Linked DNA regions of Homo sapiens: region 1 is linked to region 2. A link means that fine-mapping ties the variant in region 2 to the expression of a gene that starts in the linked region. Tissue or cell type: whole blood. Region 2 holds a variant in brackets; the other region holds the start of a gene. All regions are shown on one strand. Distances are from middle to middle. Region 1 holds the start of NFKBIZ (NFKB inhibitor zeta). Region 2 has its middle 39 kb from the start of NFKBIZ.

The links.
Region 1: NFKBIZ starts here. The variant in region 2 is fine-mapped to the expression of NFKBIZ in whole blood (TOPMed, PIP above 0.99).

What each region holds. Positions count from the first base shown.
Region 1 is chr3:101,842,811-101,858,888 of GRCh38, forward strand. NFKBIZ (NFKB inhibitor zeta) reads left to right here and starts at 6,704. Exons shown (of 12, transcript NM_031419.4): 1 at 6,704-7,107; 2 at 9,275-9,414; 3 at 9,928-9,958; 4 at 10,076-10,179; 5 at 10,281-11,053; 6 at 11,768-11,873; 7 at 12,252-12,398; 8 at 12,585-12,648; 9 at 12,923-13,092; 10 at 14,263-14,373; 11 at 14,482-14,649. The coding sequence starts at 6,819. RefSeq lists silencers at 1-109, 6,183-7,382, 6,431-6,602 and enhancers at 4,175-4,304, 5,763-6,600, 6,395-6,689.
Region 2 is chr3:101,880,938-101,897,015 of GRCh38, forward strand. No RefSeq gene overlaps it. Among named protein-coding and RNA genes, the nearest start is that of NFKBIZ, 39 kb to the left of the region's middle. The variant T/C (reference allele first, on the strand shown) is at 8,577.

The DNA of each region.
Region 1 (16,078 bases), 38 kb before region 2:
GATCATTTGCATCAAGTAAGAGATAAAGGCCTGTCTTGGATAGTGGAAATTAGAGATGGAGAAGAGAGGAGGGTTTCAGAACCAGGTGTTCAACAATTATGAGTCCAATCTGGAACTTTTGAGTTGACTGATAGGACATTGCCTACATTCGATCCCTAAAAATTATTTAAATCTGTACTTACTAATTTATTTTTAAAAACTGTATTTTCTAAAAAAAAAAAAAAAAAAAAAAAAAAAACTTCATGCAAACAGTATTGTTTCACATCTTTGCAAATTTCTTAACATCCGGTTTTACAGAAGACAGATTTTCATATTTGCTTCTGCATTTAATTTGTTGCAGTTGACCAGGTGCAGGGGTTTACGCCTGTAATCCTAGTGACTTGGGAGGCTGAGGTGGGAGGATCACTTGAAGCCAGGAGTTCCAGACAAGCCTAGGCAACACAGCCAGACCCCATCTCTACAAAACATGAAAAATAAAAAAAATTAGCCAGGCCTGGTGGGGCATGCCTGTAGTCCTAGCTACTGGGGAGACTGAGGTGGGAGGAGAGACTGAGCCCAGGAGTTAGAGGTTACAATGAGCTATAATCATGCCATTGCACTCCAGCCTGAGTGACAGAGTGAAACCCTGTCTCTTAAAAAAGAAACATGTGTCACAATATCTTATGTTGGTGAAAGTATAAAGAAAATCTGGTCTCATACACAAATGTAGTTGGTAAAGGAAGAAATAGCTTAATAGTCTTTTCAGGTAATTTGGATATTCTAATTTAATATTATACCAAAACAAGTGGTAGTTCCTTAAAGGAGAGATGCAAGATGGAACCTGAAACCATATCAATGAACTTTTTATCTTCTGATGCATTAAAATCCATTGGCCACATCTTCTGATACATTAAAATCCATTGGCCACTTTGAATGGCTCTTTCACCCATGTGTGATTTTATAATGTCTTGCATTGTTCATTTGGAAATTATTAGTTAATTGAGTTATGCAAATTTTCTAAATGTTGCCACATTTCATTATATAATATAAAAAAATCACATTTGTTAATAGCGCATCATCACTGGGCTCATCAAAAAAGTCTTCTAGAACTAGGAAGCTATCAAGCTCAAGGTGTCCAACAGAAGTTTCCCAAAATTGTAATTTTTATTGAAAAACTTGAATTTTATTATTGGCAACAAATACTGTTATTTTCCTTAACATGACAGGCTCACTTTGTTCATTAAAACACAAAACCAAACCAAACCAAAAACTGACAAATACCTGAGTCTGAAACAGTTTGTCAGTCAAGTATAATTGGTGTTCCATGAAAAACAGAGGGCAGTTCAGCTCACAACTCAAACAGTATTTGATTAGAACAAATGGCAATGACATACTGTTCAAGCTAATAGACAAGTGCATTTCCTTGAGACAATTGTCATATTTCAGGATGCAGCACAAACTTCTATGCATATTTCCCATCTTGCCACATAAAATATTAAAATGATGTATACAAGAGTCAATTAATATTGTTACTGCTTCATCCAGGACTTTTTAGGTGAAACTGGCTTTTATTCTTTTTCTTTCTGCAAGTAGACAGTGGTGAAGAATACAATGATTACTAGTTCATTTTGTTGCTGCTGCCTTGATTTGTTTTAAGGCACCATTAGTTATACCCATTGCTTTTGTACCATCATTTCAAATGTAAACACAATTGTTTCAGGATAAATGATGAGATTCGAAAAGTTATTGTACATTTTGAATGTTTCAGCATTCCTTGTGTTTGTTGTCATGCATTAAAATAAAACACCTTTGATGACTGGCCGGTGCTGGAAATGAATATAACCGAAATAGCAAGTCCAGACAGTCCATAGATCTATCCATTTCTAAGGCAAAAGTGCAATTTTGCAGACAAAACCAGTTTGCAGTTAAGTCTTTAATTCAGTGAGCTGCTGCATTGTTGCAAAGTGGCAGTGCTGTGATTTCTTTTGCTGACTTTTCATCTAGAAAATATTCAGCAAAATAAACTCTACCAGGCTTTATTGGTCTTTCACCTATGATGTTCATTTCTTCAGCCAAAGCAGTACAATAACTTATCCTGTAAGATACTGGCTTTTTCATCTCAAGTTTGAAAAGCTGTTCCAAATTGTCTTTGGCTTTTCAAAAGTTCATTACATCTACACTTAAAAATCCAATTCTGGCCGGGCACGGTGGCTCACGCCTGTAATCTCAGCACTTTGGGAGGCTGAGGAGTGGGGGATCATGAGATCAGGAGATTGAGACCATCCTGGCTGACACGGTGAAACCCCGTCTCTATTAAAAATACAAAAAATTAGCCGGGCGTGGTGGCGGGCACCTGTAGTCCCAGCTACTCGGGAGGCTAAGGCAGGAGAATGGCGTGAACCCGGGAGGCGGAGCTTGTGGTGATCCAAGATCGTGCCACTGCAGTCCAGCCTGGGTGACAGAGCGAGACTCTGTCTCAAAAAAAGAAAAAAAAAATCCAATTCCTTTTTTTTTTTTTTTTTGAGACAAGGTCTTGCTCTGTCACCCAGGCTGGAGTGCAGTTGTATGATCATAGCCTACTGCAGCCTTGACTTCTTGGGCTCAAGTGATCCTCCCACTTCGGCCTCCCAAGTAGCTGGGACCACAGGCATGTGCCACCATGCCCAGCTAATTTTTAAATTTTTTATTTTATGTAGAGATGGGGTCTCATTATATTGCCCAGACTGGTCTTGAACTTCTGGGCTCAAGCAATACTTCCTGCCATGGCCTCCCAAATTGCTGGGATTACAGGCGTGAGCCACTGCACCCAGCCCAGCCCTCAATTCCTTTTTTGAAACTCTGGATTATTGGTCTCAAGATAGTGTTACAATGTTAATTGACACCATAAAACTAAAAAATGTTCTATTGCATAAGATACAATAAGGTAAATTATTAACATTTATAAAGCCTGGGGAAAGATAGCGTTCTCATATTTTTATTTCTTCTTTACAGTTTCTTCCAGTAGCTTTGGATTAGATTTCTCCCCTCTATGAGTTGTCACAGAACTCTCTGATGTATCATTTCATCTTTTTCAGTATCTTTAGATGTAGACAGTACCTCTGAGCCTGGAGTAAATGAATCCTCTAATCTCGTTTTTTAAAGCAAAAGATGAGGCTTCAGAGTCAGTTAGATGAAGATTTCAATCTCTTCTTTGCTTTCGATGGAGCAGTGTAACTGGACAAATTCTCAAGGCCCCATATTTCGTATACAGTTTTTGTGCATCAGAAATCTCTTGAGTGTTTTTGAGGGTTCTGGTTCAAAGTGTCTCGTAAGACTATAGTCAAGATGTTGGCCAGAGCTGCAGTCATCTGAAGGCCCGATGTGCAGCTGGAGAATCTACTTTCAAAGTAGCTCACTCACATGGCGGGCATATTGGTGCTGGCTGTTGGCCTCAGTTGACTTTTCCAGACAGTGTCCTCGTAACATGGTGGCTGTCTCCCACAGCATGAGTGTTCAACCATATTTGATTAGAACAATGGCAGCATCCTATCATTCGACTTAATAGATCAAACTGAATTTGTATTTCAACATTTACATAAAGCAAAGTACATTTAAATTTTTTTGTAGCGATATTAACTGTTTTTGATGTGTATGGGAGGGCTTCTGGGCATTGGGGGTTGTGGTCTTGTCAAACAGTACTATTGCTTTGGCATTGCACAGAAAACTTCGTTTTGAAACATTAGTCTTTTGTTGACCATCTTGGTCTAGATTAAGTTCTCCAGAGGCCATGAATTTGTGGCTTGAATTTTCATATCTCATGTAAAATGGGAAGATAATTAATTAAAACAGGAGGATAATTAATTTTGTAAAAAATTACTTTCTACGGATTTATTTGAATGGGCATTTAAATCCTTTATTATACATAAAATATTGGTGGGTAGAAAACAAAATTCAAATAGATTTTATTGAGAAACTCTAATGTATTAGGGTTCTCCAGAGAAACAGAACCAATAGGGTACATATAAATATGTAGAAAGAGATTTATTATGAAGGATTGGCTCACACAATTATGCAGGCCAACAAGTCCCACCATCTGCCATCCATAAGCTGAAGAACCAGAAGAGCTGGTGATGCAGTTCTAGGTCAAGCCTGAAGGCCTGAGAACCAGGTGAGCTGGTGGTGTAAGTCCTAGTCAGAGTCTGAAGGCCCAAGAACCAGGAGTGCTGATGTCTAAGGGTAGGAAAGGATGGATGTCCCAGCTCAAGAAGATAGCTTCAGGCTTTTTGTTCTATTCTGGCCCTCAGTGGATTGCAGAATGCCTGCCCGCATTGGCGAAGGGGGATCTTACTTTACTCTGTCTACTGATTCAAATGCAAATATCTGCCAGAAACACTCTCACAGACATACCCCAAAATGATGTTGTACCAGCTGCCTGGGCATGCCTTAATCCAGTCGAATTGACACATCAAATTAACCATCACACTCAACATCTTATTTGGAGCATCTTTTAAATGATTTTGGTTTCCAAGGAATTGCAATTACTGAAGTCTTGTGTTTTCCACAGATAAACCAAGGGATTTGTTTTCTTTTTTATTTTTTAAAGTTATCAAAAAGTTGGAGGGAGAGGCAGCAAGAAGTTTTAGGGAAATACACTTGTGAGAAACAAGGAAATACAGTCATGCATTGCTTAACGATGCTACATTCTGAGAAATGTGTCGTTAAGTGATTTTGTCGTTGTTTGAACATTATGGAATGCACTTGCACAAACCTAGATAGTCTAGCCTGCTAGTCACCTAGGCTCTGTGGTATAGTCTATTGCTCCTGGTCTATAAACCTGCACAGCATGTTACTGTACTGAATACTGTAGGCAACTGTAACACAGAGGTATTTGTCTATCTAAACATATGGAAACATAGAAAAGAAACAGTAAAAATATGGTATTACAGTCTTACAGGACCACCATTGTACATGGAGTTCATTATTGACTTAAACATCATTTTGTGGGGTATGGCTGTATTTACTTTGGACCTACCCCCACCAGGGTCTTATGCCACCTACTAATACTGAGTAACAATCCAAACTCATCGTGTCCCCCCCTTCGTCCTAAAACCCAAACATTCTGCTCTGTGATCCCTTGTGATCTGGAGCTGGTGGCCCTGTTCACCTGGTCGTGGCTCCAAGCCATGGCCTGACTGGGGACCCTTTCATTTCTCCCCCCCTCCAAAAGAGCGAGACCTGTGGGTTCTGCCCTAGCAATGCTGCCCAGCTCTGCTTTCTGTCAATTTACTTTCTCCTTTCCCACTGTATCTGCCCCAGTGCCCAGTCATTTCTCTCCTGGGCTACTGCAGTGGATCCTAATGGCCTCTGGGCTCCTCATCTTCTCTCAACTGCTTGCAGATTAATTTTGCCTACCTAAAATTCATGTTTTCTCAATGTTTATTAAATAAAATTCCAGTGTCTCAGCTGCTGGAGGTGCTCCACCCAAAGGCACCAAGTTATCTTTTATATTTAATGCCATCTTCTCCTCTTGACAATCGTAAAAGGGGACTATACACTCTAATATGAACCCTCTCCTTAATTCTTTGCTCTTGTTCTTTCTGTAAATGCTGTGGGCCCCAATCCCACCCATCCTTTAGGACCTATCTTAAATGCCACCACCCCTGCAAAGATTTTCCTCCTGACCTCCTTTTTCCTCTACCAGACCTGTTGTTTCTCCTTTTAGGTGGCTCACTGAACTTTGTATCCCTCGTGTTATTTAATCATAATCGGTTTATTTAAACATAGCATGTGTGTACTTAACCTTATCATTCCCGCATTTTTTGCTAGTTGGACTTGAACAAATAGTTGTATAAATCCATTGGAAAAAAGTATTCAAGATAGGAAAGGCCAAAATTACTGTGTTAGTTTATCAGATAGTGTAAAGCTATGCAGAATTTTAAAAGTTATATCTACATATACTACAGCACCTACATGTTTGTGTATTATTTTGCTAAGATGGCTTTGTTCTAGTATTGAAGGATACAGAAGTGTGGCATTACTTTTTATTCATGGCTGCACCTAAAACATTATTTGCGTCCCAGCAGATAATTTGAGAACATAAAAATGCTCCAACATCTCTTTCAGTTCGGGATGTTGCCTAAAACCGTCGACAAACGCTATGTTTGAGAAGGGAGGCTACGCTGGGGCGCCGGAGGAGACAGGCCCTTAAGAACCTTCCAGAGATGCCTTAACTGGGCTAACAGCTCGCCGCGCCGGGGCAGGCAGAGGGGTGCGGGGCGCGCTCCTTCCAGGACTTGCCAGTCCCCAAGAACCAGGCCAACCGGTTCCCTCCACTGACTCCCGCCTCCCTCTGCAGGCCCAGCCCTGCGCCGCGCGCCCTCTCCCCGGGCGCCCAGGCCCGGCGGGGGCCTAGAGGGCAGGGATGGCCCGGGCGAGGGACGGGGTCCCGGAGGCGGGAGGCGGGAGGCGGGAGGCGGGAAGCGGGAGGCTGGAAGCCGCGCGCTGTCGGGGTTTCCCGGTGAAGGGCAGGCAAACAACCGGTCGGTCTGGGCGGAGCCGGGCGGGCGGGGCGAGGGCGGAGGGCGGAGGGCGCATTGCCTCATCCTGTACATTTTACTGGAAATCGGACGCATCCGGAGGAGGGGCTGGGAGGCGGCCCGGGCACCGCCAATGGCCGGGCCGGGCGCCGGGGAGGTCGGCGAGCGCTGCGGCCCGTTAAATACCCTGGCAGTCCCGCGCCGCGCCCGTACTGGCCCGCGCCGTCCGCCCGCCGACAGCTCCCTGAGCCAGCCCGGGAGGCAGCCGCGCGCAGCGAGCCGGTGGCGCAGGTGTCGGGGTCCTCGAGCGCCCAGCCTGGGAGCATGATTGTGGACAAGCTGCTGGACGACAGCCGCGGCGGAGAGGGGCTGCGGGACGCGGCGGGCGGCTGCGGCCTCATGACCAGCCCGCTCAACCTGAGCTACTTCTACGGCGCGTCGCCGCCCGCCGCCGCCCCGGGCGCCTGCGACGCCAGCTGCTCGGTCTTGGGCCCCTCGGCGCCCGGCTCGCCCGGCTCCGACTCCTCCGACTTCTCCTCTGCCTCGTCGGTGTCCTCCTGCGGCGCCGTGGAGTCCCGGTCGAGAGGCGGCGCCCGCGCCGAGCGCCAGCCAGGTACCCGCCGGCCCCGCACCGCTGCGTACTCGGGGCGCGCACGCCTAGGAGGTTGGGAGCGGGACTCCCCAGATGGAGGGTGGCCCCTGCGCCCTCCTTAGAGCTAGGACGTACGCACCTTAGCCATCAATTACCACTCCCCGCCTTGCCCGGGCCGGGCGCCTGCCTGACCTACACGCCCTTCGCCGGCCCGCGGAACCGGCTCCCTCCCGCGGGCCTCGGGGGGGCTTCAGAAACCGCTCGGCCGAGCTCTGACTGCCGGGCGAGTGACCAGGAGATCGCTCGCTCTCTAAGAAGCAGCTTTGTTGAGTCATAATTAATAAACTATGATGAGATTTGGGGTCTGATGTAGGTGTAATTTTCTTCTTGTGAATATTTTAGTGGAAAGCTGTAGCAGAGGATAAGGGTTTGGGAATAGCGTTAAAGGTCATGACTTATTTCTCAGTTTTTATGGAATTTTTCAGTAAAAAGACTTGACCGTCAAAGAAAAGGAAACTGCTGTTATCAAGGTGAAGCCGGGCTGAAAACCAACTCAAGTTATGCCTTTAGTTTGGCGAGTTTCGGAAGTCTGCCCGGAATTTTTGCGGTCTTGTTTTTGTTGTGTGTGCCTTAAAAAAAATGGATAAGCCATATCTAGCAGAGAAAGACGTAATGTTATCTTTCATGGGCTGCGAATTGGTTTCCTTTCTTAGTGAACCGAGTTGCATAATTTGGGGGAAAACAGGATGCCCCTGTGGGTAGGCTAGAAAAACGCCTCGATAATTGAACGTTGAGAGTAATTAGCATGATTTTAAAGAACGTCTCTTTCCGGTGTTTCCCACTCTTAGCCACTCCTGTTTTGGTTGTCATTTATTTTAAAAAGTGATATCTCATTTTCATTTTAAGTCATTTAAAATCATGCGAAAAGCGATTTAAACCACTGCGTAGCAGATCCAGAAAGAATATGTGTTTAGGACCTTTTCTTACCCACTTGGCCTTCATCTGGCTGAAACTGTTCTGCTGGTCCCTTGGTTTACCACACAGCCACAGGGGATTTCTGAAACTGCATTTTTTTCTTTCTGTGACGTTGGATTATGAACTGCTGTCATTCCAGAAAAATGCTGTGTTAGATTCTGGCAATTCTGGTATCTCTTGAAATCCCTAAACTTAAAAATAAAGCCAACTAATGTTTCACTTACCCTATCATTGAACTGTTTATCTCATGTATTTATGATAGATACAGATGTTCAAATTATGCGTTGTTTCTTGCCCCATCTTATTTTTGTACACTTGATGGAGCGGCTGAATTATTCATTTCCTGACTTTGTGAATTTGTGTTCAACACACATACTAAGAGGTTGTGACATAATAGTGATCAGAAGTGGAGTACTGTACTTGTATACCAAATGCTAAAGTGTATTTCAAAGTTTAAAAGTGAAACAAGCATATTTCCTTTTTACTTAGAAGACCTGTGTAAGTAATTCCAAAAACAGTCAATGAGGGGAAATCCTGTGTGCATATGTAGAAATGTGTTTAAGCTCAGTGAATTTAAGCAGCTTTTTTGGCACAGTTGAATTGAAGGAAATAATAAGACATAAATCTAAGACGTTGTTAATTGTCAGGTTTTCGTACATAGAGATCTTTGAAAGAAGTTGTTTTGTGCCTTCTTAGGTAAGCGGAATTGATAGACTTTAAAATTTCTATGTGAACATAAAACCATTGGTTTAAAAAGCTAAAAGTGCATCATTTATCACTTGCTCCCCAAAGTTTTTCCAAAGTCAAGAATAATTATAGAACTATGAGAGTCAGGATGGCAAAATCTGTCATCCATTCTCATGGGTGGTTAGGGCTGAGAAAAAAATGTGATCCACTCTCATGGGTGGTTAGAGCTGAGAGATAGAGAGGCTTAATTTGGGTTTACCTATTGGCTCTGAGGATCCTTGACCAAATTTTTATGAACTTTAATTTCTTAGGGTACCCAGTGGAGAAAGGTATCAGGCAACTTAGGACCTTTGAGCAGAGCTCGGGACTCACAAGGCCATTGATTGACCAGAGCAAGTTGGAAAGGTTTTGCAATGTGCTGCTTGGGGACTTTATACATTAGGCAACAGCTATACTTTTGGGATTATTAACGTTTATGTCTGTGAAGATATTTAACCAGGAATATGTTTTGTTTTCTTTTGAACAGTTGAGCCCCATATGGGGGTTGGCAGGCAGCAGAGAGGCCCCTTTCAAGGTGTTCGGGTAAAGAACTCAGTGAAGGAACTCCTGTTGCACATCCGAAGTCATAAACAGAAGGCTTCTGGCCAAGCTGTGGATGATTTTAAGGTGACATCTATTTTTCTGTTTTGAGTATAGAGTTGGGGAGAGGGGTTAGTCTGTCAGGGTTATTATGATGACCTAGGTCCAGTCATCAAGTAAGTCACTTGAAATTTTTCATAAGATGACAAAGTCCATAGGACAGAGACCATATTTGTCTGGTCTGTTGTATCCTCCTTAGCCCAGTGCCAGACACCTGGTAGGTGGGCAAGAGAAACTCAATGAATAAATAAATGAAGGCAAGTTCAGAGGCTCAACTGAAATGGAACATTTTAACTAGAAAGGGAAAAATCAAATGGTCTTATTAATTTCATCTTGACCTGCGTTGAGCTAAGGTGAAAGTGAAAATGAGGAAGTCGCAAGATAGAATAAAAATTGATATAGAAAATCAATATTGATAGAAAAACCATATCAGAGATTTATGGTAAGCTATAAAGGGTGGTAGAGATAAGCCTACTTACTGATGTATATTAAGAGGAAGTCATTTTGTATACACTAAATTGGAAACTTTTTTCTTTATAGACACAAGGTGTGAACATAGAACAGTTCAGAGGTAAGAGTTACTTGTATTTGTAATTTTTTCAGGGCTTTGGAGTAAATAATAGAGTGTAATTATGGGTAACATTTATAAAATAAAATGATGACAGAGGCTGTATTCCTTTGGGTACAGAATTGAAGAACACAGTATCATACAGTGGGAAAAGGAAAGGGCCCGATTCGTTGTCTGATGGACCTGCTTGCAAAAGGCCAGCTCTGTTGCATTCCCAATTTTTGGTAAGTATCTCACCATTTTCCTCTGACTATCCTTTGGAAATTATTCCTGGGATAATTTTAGAAGGAAGTGAGTGTGCAAGTTGCATTTTCCTTCTTTCCAGACACCACCTCAAACACCAACGCCCGGGGAGAGCATGGAAGATGTTCATCTCAATGAACCCAAACAGGAGAGCAGTGCTGATCTGCTTCAGAACATTATCAACATTAAGAATGAATGCAGCCCCGTTTCCCTGAACACAGTTCAAGTTAGCTGGCTGAACCCCGTGGTGGTCCCTCAGAGCTCCCCCGCAGAGCAGTGTCAGGACTTCCATGGAGGGCAGGTCTTTTCTCCACCTCAGAAATGCCAACCATTCCAAGTCAGGGGCTCCCAACAAATGATAGACCAGGCTTCCCTGTACCAGTATTCTCCACAGAACCAGCATGTAGAGCAGCAGCCACACTACACCCACAAACCAACTCTGGAATACAGTCCTTTTCCCATACCTCCCCAGTCCCCCGCTTATGAACCAAACCTCTTTGATGGTCCAGAATCACAGTTTTGCCCAAACCAAAGCTTAGTTTCCCTTCTTGGTGATCAAAGGGAATCTGAGAATATTGCTAATCCCATGCAGACTTCCTCCAGTGTTCAGCAGCAAAATGATGCTCACTTGCACAGCTTCAGCATGATGCCCAGCAGCGCCTGTGAGGCCATGGTGGGGCACGAGATGGCCTCTGACTCTTCAAACACTTCACTGCCATTCTCAAACATGGGAAATCCAATGAACACCACACAGTTAGGGAAATCACTTTTTCAGTGGCAGGTGGAGCAGGAAGAAAGCAAATTGGCAAATATTTCCCAAGACCAGTTTCTTTCAAAGGATGCAGATGGTGACACGTGAGTATTCTTTTATCTCATGTTCTTAATTAGGTAAGCCACACTTGTTGGACTAGTGAGCATATAATTTTTCTAGGGTATAACAAGGTATACCTTAGTTAGTGGTTGGCTAACCAAGATGACTGGTGTAGATAGAAACCGCCACTCAGTGATAGCTAGTATGTCAAGAAAGGGTTTTCCTTCAAAAAATTTTTTGGCTGAACAGATAATCTGTTCTAAATTGATAAAAATATCTGTATCTTCTTGATTAATTGAGTTTGGAAGACCAGCGTAGACTATGTCTATAGAACAGAAACAGTTAGATCATGATTAGGGATAAACTGTGAGTTGGTTTGTAGATTGATCTTAATCTGTCCTGATGTCTTTGTGGCCTTGGGCAAGTTATTTAACCTCCTTAGGTCTCAGTTCCTTGACGTGTAAAATGATAATACCTCTTGTATAGGGGTTTTATGAGTATTAAAAATAATAGATTTAAGTTGATCAGTATGGTGCTTGACATTCTTCTTTTTCTTATTTCTGATAGCCTAACCCATCCTGTTCCAACTGGGGTGTATTATCAATGTAGCAGAAAAGACAAATTATGCTTTGTAATGTTTCATTTGAGTGTACCAATATATAAAAAGGGGGCTAAAGGAAGATTTTTTTTTTTTTTTCAAAAGAACAACTTAGTGAAATCAGAAGTGATTCACCCGCTTTCCTTTCCATGTTCCCCAGGTTCCTTCATATTGCTGTTGCCCAAGGGAGAAGGGCACTTTCCTATGTTCTTGCAAGAAAGATGAATGCACTTCACATGCTGGATATTAAAGAGCACAATGGACAGGTGAGGACCTTGACAGAGTCTGAAATGGCAAAGAGGGGGTCATGGTGAAGTGAATGATGACCAGCCTTATGTGTAGATCATCTTAGAGCTCAAGATCAAGAGAGTTTAGTTAATATTAACTTTGAGATGTTGACTTTTTGCTACCATCAACCTTGAAGTTATTAATGTTAACTTTGTAGCTGTTTGACCAAACACTGAGAGTAATAAAGCCACACCCTAGGCTTACTTTAGTTTCCTTGTCTTACAGTATCTGATTGCTTATTCAAAGGATTTATTTTCTCTCTGTGGGTTTTTCCCTCAGTCATAGTTTAGTTTCATATTCCTTGTTATGATAACATTGTATGTTTAAAATATCTTTTTTCCTCTGGATATCCACAGAGTGCCTTTCAGGTGGCAGTGGCTGCCAATCAGCATCTCATTGTGCAGGATCTGGTGAACATCGGGGCACAGGTGAACACCACAGACTGCTGGGGAAGAACACCTCTGCATGTGTGTGCTGAGAAGGGCCACTCCCAGGTGCTTCAGGTAAGAGGCAGCAAACCAGGCTTCCATCATTGCAAGGCCAGAGAGATAGAGTTGGATATTAGAAGTCGGATATAGGTTGCCTGTTGCAATGATCTATTTTGAGTTAACTTATTCATTTCTTGGGGATTCTAATAGGTATATGCGCAGCTTATGTAGCTAACAGATGTCTGTTTTTAAAATCTGCAGGCGATTCAGAAGGGAGCAGTGGGAAGTAATCAGTTTGTGGATCTTGAGGCAACTAACTATGATGGTAAGCAACTGAAACTTTATTAGATTCAGAGCCACTTAGGGGGAACCATAAGGTCTAAGGGTGCTAAGTATACTAAGAAGGAAGGTAATTAAAGCTAAAATATTCTGTAGGTAAAATTAGACCCAAAAAGAGACAATATTCAGATTGCCTTACTAGTTCTTGTGGAGCCCATTTATAGGTTAAGTTAGAGGCCATCCTCAGCATTTGTCATTATAGAAGGACCAAAAGACCTGATGGGATGCTTGACCACTGCTTGATTATACTTTTCTTCTAGGCCTGACTCCCCTTCACTGTGCAGTCATAGCCCACAATGCTGTGGTCCATGAACTCCAGAGAAATCAACAGCCTCATTCACCTGAAGTTCAGGAGCTTTTACTGAAGAATAAGAGTCTGGTTGATACCATTAAGTGCCTAATTCAAATGGGAGCAGCGGTGGAAGCGAAGGTAAATTCACAGAAAAGGTTTAAGATGGGGTAGGGGAGAAACTGGTTATATAGCAAAAGACCTTGCTTCCAAGTACAGATTCAAACTTCTTTCTTTTTTTTCTGAAATTAATGGTGTGAGTAGCAATGTATGGGTGGTTAAGAAGCCCAGAATTTTTTTTTTTTTTGAGACAGAGTCTCACTGTGTCGCCCAGGCTGGAATGCAGTGGTGCGATCTTGGCTCACTGCAACCTCCGACTCCCTGGTTCAAGCGATTCTCCTGCCTCAGCCTGCCCAGTAGCTGGGACTACAGGTGCCTACCACCACACCCAGCTAATTTTTTGTATTTTTAGTAGAGACGGGGTTTCACCATGTTAGCCAGGATGGTCTCGATCTCCTGACCTCGTGATCTGCCCGCCTCGGCCTCCCGAAGTGCTGGGATTACAGGCGTGAGCCACCGCGCCCGGCCAAGAAGCCCAGATTTTAACAGATCATTTCATGTGTTTTCTTGATTTGCTTTAAATCCATGAATTATTATCCAAAAGGTCATTTAGGTATAAAATAAATAGTCTTTGAAAGGTAAAGAAAATGCTTGAAATTGATATTGTCATTTTGGCTTCCATTTTCATACACTGAGAATAAAGGTGCTTTTTGTAAGGATTTCTTCATTGTTGTAGGATGTGGAATTCATCTTCTGGTTTTTAAGCTGGAAAATAGTTTATTCTTTTAAAATTTTGGTTTTATTCACTGAGTATATGGGGGAAAAATGCCTAAGTCATAAACCATTTGGACCCTTGAGGCTTACTGACTAGTAAAATAGGTGAGAGATATAGCTAAATATAACTCTACAGGGAGGCTACCAAATCTGGAAATGTAGGTGAATACATAATAAATGGTTTACTGATAGGTTATGACATAGGATTTAAAAATATTTATTTTTCTACATTTTATGGCCACCCTGTATAAAAAGGTACATTGTGACAAGAGGCATATAGACAAATTAATAGGAAATTTAAGAGGAATAAAAGATTCCATTTAGCTTGGGATTAAGCAAGGCATTTTGGAGAAGGGAGCATTCAAAGTGAGTCTCTGAAGCTGAATCAGACATTCAGGAGACTGGGTGAAAAGTGTATTCTGAGGCATAGTATCTGGATTTTTTTTTTTTTTTTTCCTCCCTCTTGCCTTTGACAAGGATCGCAAAAGTGGCCGCACAGCCCTGCATTTGGCAGCTGAAGAAGCAAATCTGGAACTCATTCGCCTCTTTTTGGAGCTGCCCAGTTGCCTGTCTTTTGTGAATGCAAAGGTACACCAGAGTTGGAATGGCCTTCTGTACACCCTCTCAAAGTTTTTGAGCTCCTTTCATGAAATTTCCCCCTTCCTGATGTCTGATAATTCATTTCTTTGTCTTCAGGCTTACAATGGCAACACTGCCCTCCATGTTGCTGCCAGCTTGCAGTATCGGTTGACACAATTAGATGCTGTCCGCCTGTTGATGAGGAAGGGAGCAGACCCAAGTACTCGGAACTTGGAGAACGAACAGCCAGTGCATTTGGTTCCCGATGGCCCTGTGGGAGAACAGGTGAGAGGCACAGGAGGGAGAGGAAGTATTTTTTGGCACTGCAGTCTGAAACAGAAAGGGAGATGAGGCTGTGCAGGGCGAAGGCCAGCTGTTGCTCTTCAGGTGGACTCTATCAGTGTCTGTGTCTCACGGTAGCTGTCATAGCATTGTGGAGTTACTCTTCGTTTGGAAACAGCAATTAAGAAATTTGAGGGATTATCCATAGACTCAAAATGGTTAGAGGTCAGGTAGTATTCTGTGACACACACTTAGGGTTAGAGTAAGTCAGAATGGTTTAAGGTTCGGAAAGAGAAGATACCAAGGTTCCTGCAGATACCAAGGAAAGAGAATCTTAGTCTTGTAATGTATGAGCCTTCAAATATTGTGGATATTAAATGAGTTGTTACATGTGGAGTGCTCACAATAGTCCCGGGTACAGAGTAAGAGATCAGTGAACATCAATAGTTAGAATTATTTCTGTCTATGAAGTGATACTGAACAAAAAATGGAAAAATTACTTATGTAATTTCAAACCTAGAAATATTTTGTTTTAAACAGCATATTTAATGCTTTACTCATCAAATATGGTTATATATTATCATTGAGTATTGAATAGTTTCATGAGTAAACTTTTTAGATAACAAGAACTTATTCTTTCAAGAACTTAAAATGTTTTTGATGGAACTCTTTTCCTGGGAGGAATGAGGGGGATTGTGGCTGTGGGTAGGTCATTACATACTTTACTAATCACAAAATAAAATACGTGGAATGCAGTTTAGCTTTTTCTTTGATTCTGAGCTGTCATTATGACCATAATGTTATAGTAGCCCCTATTTATAGAGCTCTTTGTAATTTAGAAAGAATATTTCTATAGTTTGTAAAAAGTTTTCATGTATATCATTTAATAGTTAGAAGAACTTTACAAGTTTCAAGTTTCAACTGAGAAAATTGATATTCAGAGAGGTTCCAAGGACCAGAACCATCATTAACTTGTAAAAGGCAGAGTCCTAAGCCCAGTATTTGCTTCTACTTCACTGTTTGTGGTGTGCAGTCATATAACTATGCTCTCAGGGATCATTGAGATATTAAGCCATTTAACTCTTCATTAAATGTTCCCAGATTATCTCCTTTTTGCTTTGGTATTTTGTGTGTGTTGGGCAGGTAGAGGCTCTTTTCCCTGGCTTTTATTGTCATACTGTGGTCGTGTGTTTCCTTCTAGCAGCTATCAGTTGTATCCCCTACCCCAATCGCCTTTCATCTAAATTGTTGCTTCTAATCTGCTGGAGGCTGAGAGATAGAAAATAAAATTTGTCAGACTGGGATGTAAAATGAATCACTCTGAATGAGCCGGGATCTTTTCTGTGATCCATGAAGTTACGTGTAGATGCTTTAATACTTGGATATCATGACAGCTGTTTTGACTTGAATGGTATTAAGGATTTACTTGTGT
Region 2 (16,078 bases):
GCTAATTTTTTTGTTTGTAGAGAGGAGGGCTTGCTATGTTGCCCAGGCTGGCTTGTACTCCTGGGCTTAAGCAATCCTCCTACCTTGGCCTCCCAAAGTGCTGTGATACCAGGCGTGAGTCACTGTGCCTGGCAAATGACAGATATTCTTTTTATCTGAAGTGTGAGAGGCCATGGTTACCAGGGAAGAACTCCAAAAGCTGCAGCACTTAACGCAGTGTCCTCATACTCTTTTATTTCTTCTTGGCACGTTGATACCTGTACACACAGATTCATACGCACTTTATACATACCCACTATCGATTCTAAAGTAATATGACTGTTTGACAAACACACCTGAACTTATATATCCAAATGTAGCCTACCCCTTTCCACATGAAAGCATATTTCTACATTCTGATTTTCCAGCTTCGGGGATTTCACTTTTTGGGAATGTTTTATTTGTTTGTTTGTTTTGTTTTGTTTTGTTTTTTTTAGACGGAGTCTTGCTTTGTGGCCCAGGCTGGAGTGCAGTGGTGCGATCTTGGCTCACTGTAAGCTCCGCCTCCTAGGTTCACGCTGTTCCCCTGCCTCAGCCTCCCGAGTAGCTGGACTACGCCTGCCACCATGCCCGGCTAATTTTTTTGTATTTTTAGTAGAGATGGGGTTTCACTGTGTTAGCCAGGATGGTCTTGATCTCCTGACCTTGTGATCCGCCCCCTTCGGCCTGCCAAAGTGCTGGGATTACAGGCGTGAGCCACCGCGCCCAGCCGAATGTTTTGTTTTTTTAAAACCTTCCAGGGTAGTAAGTTTTGCTCCTTAGAGTGGGTTTGGTTTTTTGAGAACAGCTTAACATCATTTGAAACCAAGTGAAGTAGACGAGCAGTCTGAGTAACATAAATAGTGGTAGAACATGAGCAGAGGGCCTGAGCAATTCTGCCTGAGGAGTTCCCATTTCTTGTTGTTCTAATCTCTTTTATAAAGAGCTGCCAGAGTCCACTTTTAAAATCTGAACTCTGGGGATGAAGTTTTTTGATTCCAAGGCCTCCTCTTTGCAGAATAAAAGTATCAAGACCTTCCCTAATTAAGCTCAACCTAACTTTACAGACTTACTTCCTATGCTAGTGCCATTAACTCTGGTTGCTTACATTGAACTACTTGACTTTCAATATGTACCAACCTGATGCCTTTGCCCACGTTGTTCCTTATGGAATAGCCTTTCCTTATTCCCATTGATTTATATTTATTACCCCCTTTTTGCAGAAGTTTTAATGTGGCCTTCATCATTCCTGCTGAATTCCTACTTATCTTTAGAGATCTATATAATGACAGTTTCTCTGTTTTCCAAATTGTAAGTTAATCTCTCTGAGCTCTAATAGTACTTTGTGTTGACTTCTATCTTTTAGTATAGCTACTAGAACTACTAAGTTTTTGGTTTAAGTGCCTTCAGTTTTGTATGACTAGCCTTTAGCAGTGACTTATATTAGTATATAGTAAGTGTTCAATGTTTTTAGCATTGATCCTGAAGACAATTTCTTTCTTTTTTTTACTAGAGACAAGGTCTCACTATGTTGCCCAGGCTGGTCTTGAACTCCTGGGCTCAAGTGATCCACCTGCCTTGGCTTCCCAAAGTGCTGAAATTGTAAGCATGAGCCACCATGCCAAGCCCTGAAGACAATTTCAGAGGGGACCCCCCAAGACATTTTGAGTAATGAATGTAGCTTTTCAAGGATATTTTAAAGATAATACTTGTTTGGCATATATATTCTATATTCAAATTTCTTTTTTTTTTCTTGATTCCATACCATTAGAGAGATCCATAATGGCAGATTGCTTGTTCACTAGCTCTTCCTACAAAGTGACTTTGAAAATCTTCCCATAAAGAGGCAGGATCCATATTTCCTACCCTCAAATCTGGATTCAGAAGTGATGCTACATTACTCCTGAAGCTAAGTCATAAAAGCAATATGGCTTCTGCCTGTTTCTCTTGAGGCACTTGGGACCAGCCACCATGCTGTAAAGAAGCTTAAGTAGCCTGCAAAAAGGACTGTGTGGAGGGGAATCTGGCCCACAGTCCTGACTGAAGTCTTAATTGACAGCCAGCACCAGCATACCGGCCATACAAGGGAGCCATTTTGAAAATGTATCCTTAAGTCTCCCAGTGAGCTGCCCCATCTGAGGAACCATGGAGCTGAGATAAGCTGTTCCCACTGAGTCCTGTCCAAGCTATAGATTTATGAGCAAAATAAGTGATTTTTGTTTTAAGCTACTAAATTTTGGAGTTTTTTGTTATGCAGCAATAGGCAACTGATCTATCTTGTATATAGGTCATAGATCACAAAATTTTGATTTGTAAGTCCTAGGCATGATCTTATTTCCCTGTTTCAGAGATAGGAAATGAATAATCCAGAGTGCAAGTAGATTTCAGGTATACTATTATTGTGTTCATCTGGCTGGAGGAAGATGGTTTGAAGAAAAGACTCCCGGATCTGAAGTCAGGAGCCATGGGCTTGAGGTGGAATTTGGGCAAGAGGCCTAATCTCCCTGAGCCCAGTTTATTTTCCTGTTAAATGGGAATAATAATAACAGACCTGTATTCATCTTTCTTCTTCCCCCATTCATTCACTTACTTAACAATGATTTATAGATTAACTGCAATGAGCTGTGCAAGCAATAAACATATAAAGATAAATATTACAAATTTCTTGTTTTCATGGAGTTCATAGCTTACTGGGAGACAGTAACATAATGAAGCTATTATTTCAAAACAGTGCAATAAGTACCATTATAGAAATAAGTATAGGGTTAAATTGTGACTAGAGGGGAGAGTAGTAAGTTCTGCCTTTGAGTGGTGGGGGCAGTTTCATAGAACAGGAGACACTAGATTACTCTGTCAAAGGATGAGTATGTGTCACCAAATAGGCAAAGATCAAAAGGGCATTCCAGAGAGGAAAGATATATAAAGGCATAAATGCATAAGAAAGCATTATGTCTTCAGTCAACTCTAAAAATTTGAGGCCTAGAGGGTAAGAAACAAGATTAGAGCCAGGCAAGGAACAGATATTGGAGAGCCTTGTGTACCATGGAAAAGAGTTTGGGTTTTGTGTAGGTGAAAGGGAACCTCCAAAATAATTAAACTACAGAGGTAACAGGATTGGGCTGTAATTTAGAAAGGTATGTAGTAGTGGAGAATGGACTTTGAGGGAGGCAGTGGAGACAGAGGAAAAAGAAAAACGAGATGCCAGCTGGTCTGGCTGGCTGTTTAGGATGCTAATATAAAAATCCAGGTGAGAATTGATCAAGGCCTAAGGTAAGGCAGAGGCAAAAAGAAAAAGGGAGGATGAGTCAGGTCTGAGAGAGATTTAATAGGCAGAATAGACAGAATTTCTGATGAGGCTTTAAACTGATACAAGGATCAAATGTAATAATATATGCTCAAGTATAAAGTATGTACTCTACAAATATGAGAAACAATTAATTAGTGATAGAATTTGTAATATAAAACATTTTACGTATGACTCCAAAGAAAACATATCAGCACTGTGTGCCTGATCAGGACATATATTTTCTCCAGTGTATCAAAAAACTATATGTAACCTTAGTAGGAAGGGTTGAAGCAATTAATATTTAAATTAACAATTACTTTCTGCTAAATCTTTAATCCAACTCCAGTGACTGTAAAACACTAAACTTGGTGGAAATGGTGGACGCGAGATGGAGAGAAGTAGGAAGAAGGATGGAGAGGAAGGGGGTAATTAGTGTAGAACTCTAACAGATCCATGTCCCACACTCTATAAGGGTCTACAATAGTGTGGACCTTTGCTACCTAGAATCTTCAAAGAAGAAAGTAATCTTTACTGTCCTCCTCAATGGCATTAAGGAAAAGCACCTTCTTAAGTCTCCCTCCATCATATTCCCTCTAGGCAAAAGAGGGCTAACCACATTGGCTGAGACGTGTTGCTTTGTTCATTCCCTACAAAAAAATAAGATCTGGAGGAGTTGATTACACATGTGAGTTGATTGCTCATGGCAATATAAAAATGAGCAAGAACTTGCCTGTTCCTCATGGCTTCATTTACATATTGCCCCAGGGTCTAACTCAGGAAAATCCCAGGATTGACCACACCTTCAGGTAGTATGGGTTTGTCAGGTACATCCAACATAGGAAAGAGGAAAGATATGTACAAAAGGCACAGAGATATGAAACAGAATTTTGTGTTGACTTATTTGCAAGAGTCTGAGACCTGGCATGGTGGGAAATGAGACGGGAGAGAGAGAGAACAAGGGCTAGATCTTGGAGGGCCTCATTGACTTTGAAGGAAATTGGGATGTAGGAGAGAAGAATCCCCAGAAATAACTCAGCCAAGGAAGAACCAGGATCAGGTCATAATTTAGAAAGACCTGAAGTCTGTGTGGAGGATGTTGTGGTCCACAGAAGCCTGGGAAGATCAAGATTTCAAGTCCCTGTTTCCCCAGGAAAAACACATGGGACCTGATCAGGGTGTTTGCATTATAATGCTGTCCAGGTCTGGGTGTTCTTTTTTTTTTTTTTAAATTATACTTTAAGTTCTAGGGTACATATGCACAATGTGCAGGTTTGTTACATAGGTATACATGTGCTATGTTGGTTTGCTTCACCCATCAACTCATCATTTACATTAGGTATTTCTCCTAATGCTATCCCTCCTCCAGCCCCCTACCCCGCAACAGGCCCTGGTGTGTGATGTTCCCTGCCCTGTATCCATGTGTTCTCATTGCTCAACTCCCACTTATGAGTGAGAACATGTGGTGTTTGGTTTTCTGTCCTTGTGATATTTTGCTGAGAATAATGGTTTCCAGCTTCATCCATGTCCCTGCAAAGGATATGAACGCATCCTTTTTTATGGCTGCATAGTATTCCATGGTGTATATGTGCCACATTTTCTTTATCCAGTCGATCATTGATGGGCATTTGGGTTGGTTCCAAGTCTTTGCTATTGTGAATAGTGCCACAACAAACATATGTGTCATGTGTCTTTATAGTAGCATGATTTATAATCCTTTGAGTATATACCCAGTAATGGGATTGCTGGGTCAAATGGTATTTCTAGTTATAGATCCCTGAGGAATCACCACCCTGTCTTCCACAATGGTTGAACTAATTTACACTCCCACCAACAGTGTAAAAGTGTTCCAATTTCTCCACATCCTCTCCAGCACCTGTTGTTTCCTGACTTTTTAATGATCGCCATGCTAACCGGCATGAGATGGTATCTCATTGTGGTTTTGATTTGCATTTCTCTGATGACCAGCGATGATGAGCATTTTTTCATATGTCCATTGGCTGCATAAATGTCTTCTTTTGAGAAGTGTCTGTTCATATCATTTGCCCACTTTTTGATGGGGTTGTTTTTTTCTTGTAAATTTGTTTAAGTTCTTTGTAGAGTCTGGATATTAGCCCTTTGTCATATGGGTAGATTGCAAAAATTTTCTCCCATTCTGTGGGTTGCCTGTTCACTCTGATGATAGTTTCTTTTGCTGTGCAGAAGCTCTTTAGTTTAATTAGATCCCATTTGTCAATTTTGGTTTGTGTTGCCATTGCTTTTGGTGTTTTAGATATGAAGTCTTTGCCCATGCCTATGTCCTGAATGGTATTGCAGGTCTGGGCATTCTTAACTCAAGGGATCCTTGAGTAAAAGTGATAGTGGGATCTTTACACTGATCCCACTAACAGCAAGTTACCAGGTCTTCATTTTCTTGCCATCCTTTTAATCACAGATAAGTGTTCTTCATACTGGCCTTCCCTCTCATCTCTAGCCGGAAAACCATTGGTACTTGCCCCAGGTAGGAGGAGGAGCAGAGAACAGAAGGTTTCTGTGGAGCTGCGTTAATCACCAAGGAGAGGCAGATGGCTCCAAGCCCACAGAGTGTGACCCAGGTAAGTTTAAAAGTGTGGCCGAAACCCAACAAACACCTCCCTGTAATTTTGCCCTCTCTACCCTTAGGTGAAAATGAGTCAAGCAAGGGAGTAGCCAAGCAGAATGCTGGGACAGTCATGGTTCTTTACAGACAAGGAGGCCCCATGGTCTTCATTAGGGAGAGAGGAAGATTTTCAAGGGGTTCTGGAATTTTCTGATTTTTCAATTGTTTTCCTGTTTCTTCTTTTTTTAAATTTAATTTAATGTAATTTTTTTTTTTTTTTTTTTTTTTTTTTTTGGTGACAGGGTCTTGCTCTGTTGCCTAGGCTGGAGAGCAGCGGTTCAATCATAGCTCACTGTAACCTCAAACTCCTGGGCTCGAGCAATCCTTCTGCCTCAGCCTCCTGAGTAGCTGGGAATGCAGGTGCGTGCACCCACCCCTGGCTAATTATTATTATTTTTTTGTAGAGATGGAGTCTTACTATGTTGCCTAGGGTCTTGAACTCCTGGCCTCAAGGGATCCTCTCACCTCGGCCTCCCAAAGTGTTGGGATTACATGTGTGAACCATTGCGCCCAGCCTACTTTTCTATTTCTTTAGCTTTCTTTCTCATTTTGCTCTCTAGCACAGTAAATTTTCCTCTATTATTTAGAAAACCTATCCCTGTGCTGAGTATTTAATAGATTATTAAAATTTGCCATGAACTTATTTTATTTTAAAAGGTTAAATAGGAATGAGGAAGCAAAATTTAGATGAAGTAGATTTGTTAATCACTGGAGGTAGAAAGAGAGTTTCAGTAATCTGTTGCTGCAATCATTGACTCTCTAGTCCAAGAGGCATCTTGAAGACCAGTGCCTCTGATTTGATTTTCCCCTACAATCCTAAGCAGTGGTTTCCCTGATGACCATGAATATATATAGCATAGGCATCTCATTGCCTTTCCAAGCAGCCCCTCTGACAGCCAGAACTGAAATCTGCTTCTCATAATGGTCACCCACCACTCAGAATTCTACTCTCCTACATGAAATAACTTTTACCATTTCCTTGTAGTAGAGTAGCGGAACAAACAATGACACTAAAATCACAAGCACAGCAACCAATGCAGCAAAAGCTAGGACCAGTGCCACATGTTTTGCCATCATCACTTTTTTGATTGACTGCATTTGCTGTCCTTTGCAAACTGTTGCTCTGTCCCTCCTTCCCTTTAGCCTGCTCTTCCAATAAGTAAAATATGGAGAATCTGGTCTTTACTAAGAGTAGCATAAATGTAGTTCTTAAGTCATTCCCAATTTGGAGCACTCTACACTATACTATCCTGAGCTTCGGATTAAGGCCTGAGTTTTCCTGACTTGAAATTTGAAGGGAATTCTTTTTGTTGTTGTTTTTCCTGGTAAGACTCTGCAGCTTTGCTGAGAAGAACCTAGTGGATAGGGAATATCCAATTTCTTATCTCCTGGCAACATGAGATTTCCAGAATCTTCCACAATCACTAAAGGGTCAGATCTTTGAGACTTCATCCCTTTGTTATAAGGTGACTTAGCAACAACAGTTTGGTTGCAATTGAAGATGCAGTTTTGAAGTATTGTCTCTTTTTGTGGCCTTTCTTCCTCCCTCTCTAAAATGAGTGAGTAGGTGGGTGAATGTGTATGGCAAAAGATGGGAGGAAAAGGTGGGCCAGGCAGTTGGAATTGTTTCTTAGTGTGGTTGGGTCTCACAGCTTTTTATGGTTGTTTTGCTCCTATCCTCCAGGCCCCTTTGGCCAACTCCTTCCCCACCCTTTCATCCTAAAGCCCCCAAAACCACAACCACAGTCAAATAATTAAACACACGAAACAAATAAAACTGCTTCTGTGTGAATATGTTTCTCTGGTCATGCCATCCCTGTGAGAGACGCCTCCCTCGTAAACAGTAACAGGCAGAATTTCTCTAGCAAGGCAGGCACACAACAGACTCTGCACCTTCAAGGCAGAAGCAGAAGGGAAGGCCAGTGCCTCTGGGTTAGGGCCTGTTGGTTCTTGGAAGGCACTCCCAAGAATCCTGGCAAACTCTGCAGGGAGAGGAAGACAAAAATTTCCAGTGTTTGCAGCCAACAGGGCCACGTGTTCATTCAATAAAATTTATGACTTGGTTGGTCTCTATGGGCTTCTGGCTGAGTGAAGGTGAGAGAAATCTGTGGTAATTGCAGATCTGGCATGACCAAAGATGAGCCAATTTTAAACAACCTTCTAATGTAAACTTTTAAGGAGACATTTAAAACTTCGAGCTTGAGGCTCATGTCTGTAATCCCAGCACTCTGCGAGGCCGAGGTGGGAGCATTGCGTGAGGCCAAGAGAGTTTGAGACCAATATGAACTACATAGTGAGACAGTCTCTATAAAACATAAAATTATGCCTTAGTCCTAGCATCTTGGAAACCTGAGGTGGGATGATTGCTTGAGCCCGGGAGTTTGAGTCTGCAGTGAGCCATTACTGTACCATTGCACTCCAGCCTGAGCCACAGAGTGAGGCTCTGTTTCTAAAAGACAAAATAAAAAAGATAAGAAAAAACCCTGTCTCAGAATCCTAAAATCCAACTAAAGGGTTAAGTTCTAAAAATGATAATTATGAATTTTGCAAATTTCCTGTCCTTATAGTCCCAGCATGGAGTGACAAGGTTATTGGTGAGCACTAACACTCAACTGAGAAGCTTTCAGAAAATACTGT[T/C]ATCTGGGGCTTACCAAAGACCAGTTAAATCAGAAATACTACCAAGTGGGGTATTTATATCCCTGTAAAAGTTCTCCGTGAACTTAATGGGCAGTCAGGGTTCAGCATCACTGCATTGAATAAACCAGTCTATGAAAGTCTTGCTAGAGGTTTTCTCAGGCTTTTTTTTTTTTTTTTGAGACAAAGTCTCACTCTGTTGCCCAGGGTGGAGTGCAATGGCGTAATCTCAGCTCACTACAACCACCGTCTCTCAGGTTCAAGCAATTCTCCTGCCTCGGCCTCCTGAGTAGCTGGGACTATAGGCGCATGCCACCACACCTGGCTAATTTTTTATTTTTAGTAGAGACAGGGTTTCACCATGTTGGCCAGGCTGGTCTCAAACTCCTGACCTCAGGTGATCCACCCACCTCTGCCTCCCAAAGAGCTGGGATTACAGGCGTGAGCCACTGCGCCCGGGGGTTTACTCAGTTTTAACATTGTGCCACATTGCTATATTTTGTGACTAGAGATGATATGGGCCCTCAGGGAGAGGAACTGATGATAGCTGCTGGAGTCTGAACAGGGCTTAGTCTGAGGAAGGAGGAAAACCAACAGAGAACAGAGTCAAGGACAGCAAAGGAGGAAGAAGACGTTTTAAGGAGTATGGCCTGGTCAAAGTGGTCTGGTCCTACAATGCAATAACTTGAAATGTCTCCATATTGTACAACAGGTGGATTATTGGTGACCTTAGTGAGATCAGCTGCAGTGAGATTTCACTTGGCTGAGGAGATAAGGAAACAGAGATAAGTGTGGACTAAAATTTTCAGAATTCTGGCCAGGCGCAGTGGCTCACGCCTATAATCCCAGCACTTTGGGAGACTGAGGCGGTCGAATCACGAGGTCAGGAGTTCGACACCAGCCTGACCATTGTGGTGAAACCAAGTCTCTACTAAAATTACAAAAATTAGTCAGGCATGGTGGTGCCTGCCTGTAATCCCAGCTACTCAGGAGGTTGAGGCAGGAGAATCACTTGAACCCAGGAGGCAGAGGTTGCAATGAGCTAAGATCGTGCCACTGCACTCCAGCCTGGGTGACAGAGTGGGACTTTGTCTCAAAAAAGGAAAAAAAAAAAAGTAATTTTAGAATTCTAGCTGAGAAGCAACAGAAAGTCTTAAAAGATGTCAAAAGACAGAATTACAATAAATTTAGTTTAAAAATTGAATTGGCTTTATTTGCAATTCTAGAATCAGCAACACCTCATTCTGAGGGTTCCAATTTGCTGAGCAGAGGAGGTTGGCTTTATGGGCAGAAAATGGCTGAAGAAAGTGGAAATGAACAACAAAAAATAGATTGGTTGTTTCAAAGTGACTTTCCTTATAGGGTTAAAACAGAGGGGACTTCCTTATTACACTGACTCAGGTTGACTGGAATCTCCTAATTTTTAGAAAATGAGCTCATTTCAAAGTTCACTTTGATTATGTGGCACTTAGTACAAGTGACCTCATTCTGGTTTGGTCTGGCCTGCCAGGGCCTAGTGCAGGAGGCTAGCCCAAAACAATAGCCTCCCATAAACTTTAACAAAAGGGATACAGGATTCAGGAATTTTAATTTTTTTATTTTGTATTTATTCAATAATGGGTTAGATCTGAGTGTGTGTGTGTGTGTGTGTATATATATAAATAATATACGTATACGTATACGTATAACATATGTATATGTATACATATATGTATAACATATGTATATGTATACGTATATGTATAATATATGTATAACATATGTATATGTATACATATATGCATAATATATGTATAACATATGTATATGCACACATATATGTATAACATATGTACATGCACACATATATGTATAACATGTATATGCACACATATATGTATAACGTATACGCACACATATATGTATAACACATGTATATGCACACATATATGTATAACATATGTATATACACACATGTATAACATGTATATGCACACACATGCATAACATGTATATGCACACACATATGTATAACATGTATATGCACACAATATGTATAACATATGTATACACACACATATATGTATAACATATGTATATGCACACATATGTATAACATATGTATACGCACACATATATGTATAATATATGTATAACATGTATATGCACACATATATGTATACTATATGTATAACACATGTATATGCATACATATGTATAATATATGTATAACACATGTATATGCATACATATGTATATGTATAACACATGTATATGTATACATATGTATAATATATGTATAACACATGTATATGTATACATATATGTATAATATATGTATAACACATGTATATGTATACATATATGTATAATATATGTATATGCTAAGGAGAGGGAATGGATGAAAATATAGGAGGCTAGAGGGAGTAACATGGCTCCTGAAAATGTACAGGAATGGAAGTAGTAGCCTTGGACAGGAAGAAAGAAGAGACTTCACTGTCATTGTAACAGAGAGGAAGAAGCAGTCCCTGGTGTGGATGCAAAATGTTTAGGCAGGGGCATGGGTAGGAATGTGAGGACCTGTTTGCCTCATGGCCTCTAATTCACTGTAAAGTGGAGGTAAGATCATTTGCAGGGTTTCTTAGTAAAGCCATTGCCCTCTGAGGTCTCTGGAACCATTGAGATAGAATGAGGCCACAGCTGAGCACACCCTCATTTCTCACTCCCTCCTGACACACAGAAGAGGGGACAGGTGCTATGTCTGCTGGGAACTGAGGTGCGGGCAGTATGGGAGACAGTTGGTTCCCTCTGTGTGGCTTTCTCCATCTCACATCACTCCTTACCTCCACTCATGCATTCGCCTGCCTCCTGCAGACTGCAGAGCCCTTCTGTTTTCTGTCTGTTCATTGTTCCTTCTTTCCTTCCATTGTGTCAGAATCTCCGCCTTTGATTGGCCACCACTGCTGCTGTCCTTAAGTGTCTTTGCCTTTTGTTATAAATGCTGAAAGTCTGATAATGTATCACTATTGATAGGTAATCAGAGGGCTCTTTTCCTTCCACAAGACTTGCTGATAAATAAAGGGTATTGGAAGTCATTATATACCATTCGAAACATTTCTAGCCTTCTCAAAAATAAAAGACCAAATTCAATGGTGAGTATGAATAAATAATGAAGGGCCGGGTTTCTGGGCCAGTGATCTTTCATCTTCATCTTGCTGTTTCTGTTCTTCACTTCTCCAAGCTCAAGCCTGGGAAAGGTGTGATGAAGGCTATCAAAGATGAATTCAAAATATAGTATGCAACAGCTACCAAAGGGCAACTTCATATTGATTTTCCTTTCAATGAGCCACAGGTCTGGCTTACTTGGTTTAACATCCTGCTAGAATCAGGCAGTCTTTGGACTCAGTTCAGCAGTTTCTGGTTGGCATGAAGATTCATCTAATGGAGAAATTGAGAACACTAAAGAATCTTTAATTGTGGTAAAATGCACATAAAATTTACCATCCTAACCACTTTTCAGTGTACAGTTCAGAAGTGTTAAGTATATTCACTTTTTTCCTTACATGAATACATAAGTAGCACACTTTGTGTGTGTGTATGCAACCAATCTCCAGAATTCTTTTCATCTGTAAAACCGAAACTTTGTATCCATTAGACAACTCCCAATTTCTCCCTCCCCCTAGCTCCTGGCAGCCACCATGTACTTTCTGTCTGTATTAATTTGATGATTCTTGGTGCCATATATGAGTGGAATTATACAGTATTTGTCTTTTTGTGACTGGATGATTTCACTTAGCATAATGTCCTTAAGGTTCTTCCATGTTGTAGCATGTGTCAGAATCTTCTTCCTTTTTAAAGGTGAATAATATTCCATTGGATGTATATGCCATATTTTGTTTATCCATTCATCTGTTGATGAACACTTGGGTTGCTTCCTACCTTTTGGCTATTATGAATAATGCTGCTATGAACGTGGATGTATAAGTATCTGTATGAGTTTCTGCTAATTCTTTTGGGTGTCTACCCAGAGCTGGAATTGCTGGATCGTATGGTAATATTTTTTAATATTTTTTTTTTTTTTTTGAGACGGAGTCTCACTCTCGCCCAGGCTGGAGTGCAGTGATGCTATCTCGGCTCACTGCAAGCTCCGCCTCCCGGGTTCATGCCATTCTCCTGCCTCAGCCTCCCAAGTAGCTGGGACTACAGGCGCCTGCCACCACGCCCGGCTAATTTTTTGTGTTTTTAGTAGAGATGGGGTTTCACCGTGTTAGCCAGGATGGTCTCGATCTCCTGACCTCGTGAGCCGCCCACCTTGGCCTCCCATAGTGCTGGGATTACAGGCGTGAGCCACTGCGCCTGGCCTAACACTTTTTAATTTTTTAAGGAACTGCCATACTGTTTTCTACAGTGGTTGCACCATTTTACATTCCTACCAGCAGTACACAAGGGTTTCAATTTCTTCACAGCCACACCAACACTTTTCTATTTTTTGATAGTAGCCATCCTAATGGGCAGCATCTTGGGGTTTTGATGAACATTTGTCTGATGCTTAGTGATATTAAACTTCTTTTCCTGCGCTTATTGGCTATTAGTATATCTTCTTTGAAGAAATGTCTATTCAAGTCATTTGCTTATTTTTAAAGTCAGGTTTTTTGTTGTTGAGATTAAGAGCGTTTTAAGATTTTTGCAGTAAGTATTTAGAGCAATATTGTAGGGTCTTATTAAGTCCAAGGCTTTTTATTTTTCTCCCGTGACTCCGCCACTGTCCCTGCTGTAAAATACAGTGGCTCTTCATGGTAAATTCCAATTTTAAGTAGCATTAAATGTGGCTGTACTCAGTTCTTTATTTTTAACTCATAATATTTGGGTCAGCATTTTTAGATAAAACGGATGCTATGTCTTTTGCCATAGCAAACAGGAAGGTATCTATTATTCTCTTTGCTGATGACATGGTCCTTCACTGAATGGTTGGTTTCTATCAGGAGAAACAGCTTGGTGTCAAGCATGCCATTTTTAGAATGTACTCTTGTTTAATAGAGCTTTATTAAACAGATAGATAAGTATAGTTATATTTCAGGGGTGGTGCTGTGTATTTTGGGACCAGCATCACCCATCGGAGCCATGGAGATTCAATTCTGCTTCAAATTAATAGCTCCACAGGATCCACATGAAAGTTCTTAACTGGCAGGTACAGATGGAAACTAACTTCTATCCTAAAAATCCTTCAGGCCAGGTGTATCTCTTAACGCTGTAGGTGCAGAAATTTAGAGCTTCACCATACTTGTTAGTGTCTTGGAGACATATCCAAAGTTGCTTTGTAGAGAAAAGTCTTATTTACCTGTAGATTTTCTTAGCCTATTCTATGTTTAAGGCCATACTCCTGGGTAAGAGCATAAACTGGACTCTACTTTCCTTAACTGTCTACATGACAGGTGTTTCAGCCCAATACTTTCAATCAGGTATGAACATTATGAACTCATTAGTAAACATAGTTTTGGATTGTCTTCTATGGAAAACTTATTAAAGCCCATATGGGAAAAATGTTATGTGAGAAATACAGCCAAAAAGAGATGCTAAACACTCATTCTTTAGCTTCTCTGAGCTCCTTCCTGGTATTGAGTTGCTATACCCTAAACTCAGTTCTGCAGTGTATTATTGCTCTGTCTCAACAGAAAATTCTGTGCCCAAATTAAGACCTAACAACATGCCCTCAAATTTTACAGACTCTCTCTCTAATATTTGGAACACGAGATTTTTTTTCTTTATTCGGTGGAAGTCAGAAGCAGAGAAAAAGTTGTTTCTGAAAAAAGTTGCTATAGTTTGAAGTTTCCCTCAAAAGTTCATGTGTTGGAAACTTAATACCCAATGCAACAGTGTTGAGAGGGAGGTAGGGCTTAATGAGAGGGCTCCAACCAATGGATTAATGTCATTATTAAAAGAGAGAGTTAGTTATCACAAAGCAGGTTGTTATAAAGTGAGTCCAGCCTTTGATGCCTCTCTGTCTAATGTAATTACTTCTGTCTTCTTCCCTTTCACCATGAGATGACCCTTACCAGACACCATGTTTTTGGACTTACCAGCCTTCAGAACCATGAGTTAAATAAACTTTTGTTCTTTATAAATTACCCAGTCTGTGATATTCTGTTATAGCAGCAGGAAACAGATAAAGAAAAAATTTGTTTTTTAATTTTTATTTTAATTTTTTTTTAGACAGGGTCTCACTTTTTCACATAAGCCAGAGTGAAGTGGCATGAACAGAGCTCACTGCAGCCTCAACCACCTGGGCCCAAGCAACCCTCCTGTCTCAGCCCCCAAGTAGCTGGGATCACAGGCGCATGCCACCATGCCCAGATAATTTTTGTATTTTTTGTAGAGATGGGGTTTTGCCATGTTGCCCAGGCTTGTCTCAAACTCCTAAGCTTAGGCAATCTGCCTTCCTCAGCCTCCCAAAGTGCTGTGATTACAGGCCTGAGCCACTGCACCCAACCAAAGACAAAAATTAAGCTTTTTTTAAAAAATTTTTATTTCCATAGGTTTTTGGGGAACAGGTGATATTTGGTTAGATGAGTAAGTTCTTTAGTGGAGATTTGTGAGATTTTGGTGCACCCATCTCCAGAGCAATATACACTAAACTTAACTTGTAGTCTTTTATCCCCTACCCCCTTCCCACTCTTACTTCTGAGTCCCCGAAGTCCACTGTGTCATTCTTATGCCTTTGCATCCTCATGGCTTGGCTCCCATTTATGAGTGAGAACATAAACATTTAGCCTTTTTTTAAAAAAAAAATTGAGATGGAGTCTCACTATGTTGCCTAGGCTGGTCTCAAATTTCTGAGCTCAAATTATCCTGGTCTTGGATTCCTGAGCTCAAATTGTCCTACTGCCTCAGCCTCCTAAGTAGCTGGGATTACAGGAATGCTTTTTTCTTTCTTTCTTTTTAATTTTTTAAAACAAAAACAATGTTATATAGCCTCATGAATGTCTTTGCCTTTTGCCTTGACTGTCAGAAAATTAGTTTTAAATTCAAGCATTCTCTCAAATCTAATTTTGTTTGATGTTAGTATTTGCTGACTTTGCTTTTTATTTGATGTATGTATTCTTTTTAATAGCTTTATTGAGGTATAATTTACACACCATAAAAATCTGCCATTTGAACTGTACGATTCAATCATTTTTAGTAAATTTACAGAGTTGTGCTGCTATCATCACAACCCAATTTTAGAATAGTTTCATCATCCTGAAAAGACCCTTTTTCCCAACCCCAGGCAACCATTAATCTACTACTTTCTGTCTCTATAGATTTGCCTAATCTGGTTATTTCATGTAAACAAAATCACACCAGAGTCAAACCATTTGTGGCTGGCTTCCACTGCTGAGCATAACAATTTCAAGGAAAATCTATGTAATAACATGTATCATTTACATGGTATCTTTTAAAGTGCAAAACTTAAAAATTTTGATAAATTCCAATGAATTTTGATTCATTTTGAGTTGTTTTGTGTGTATGATGTGAGATAAGGGTTTGAA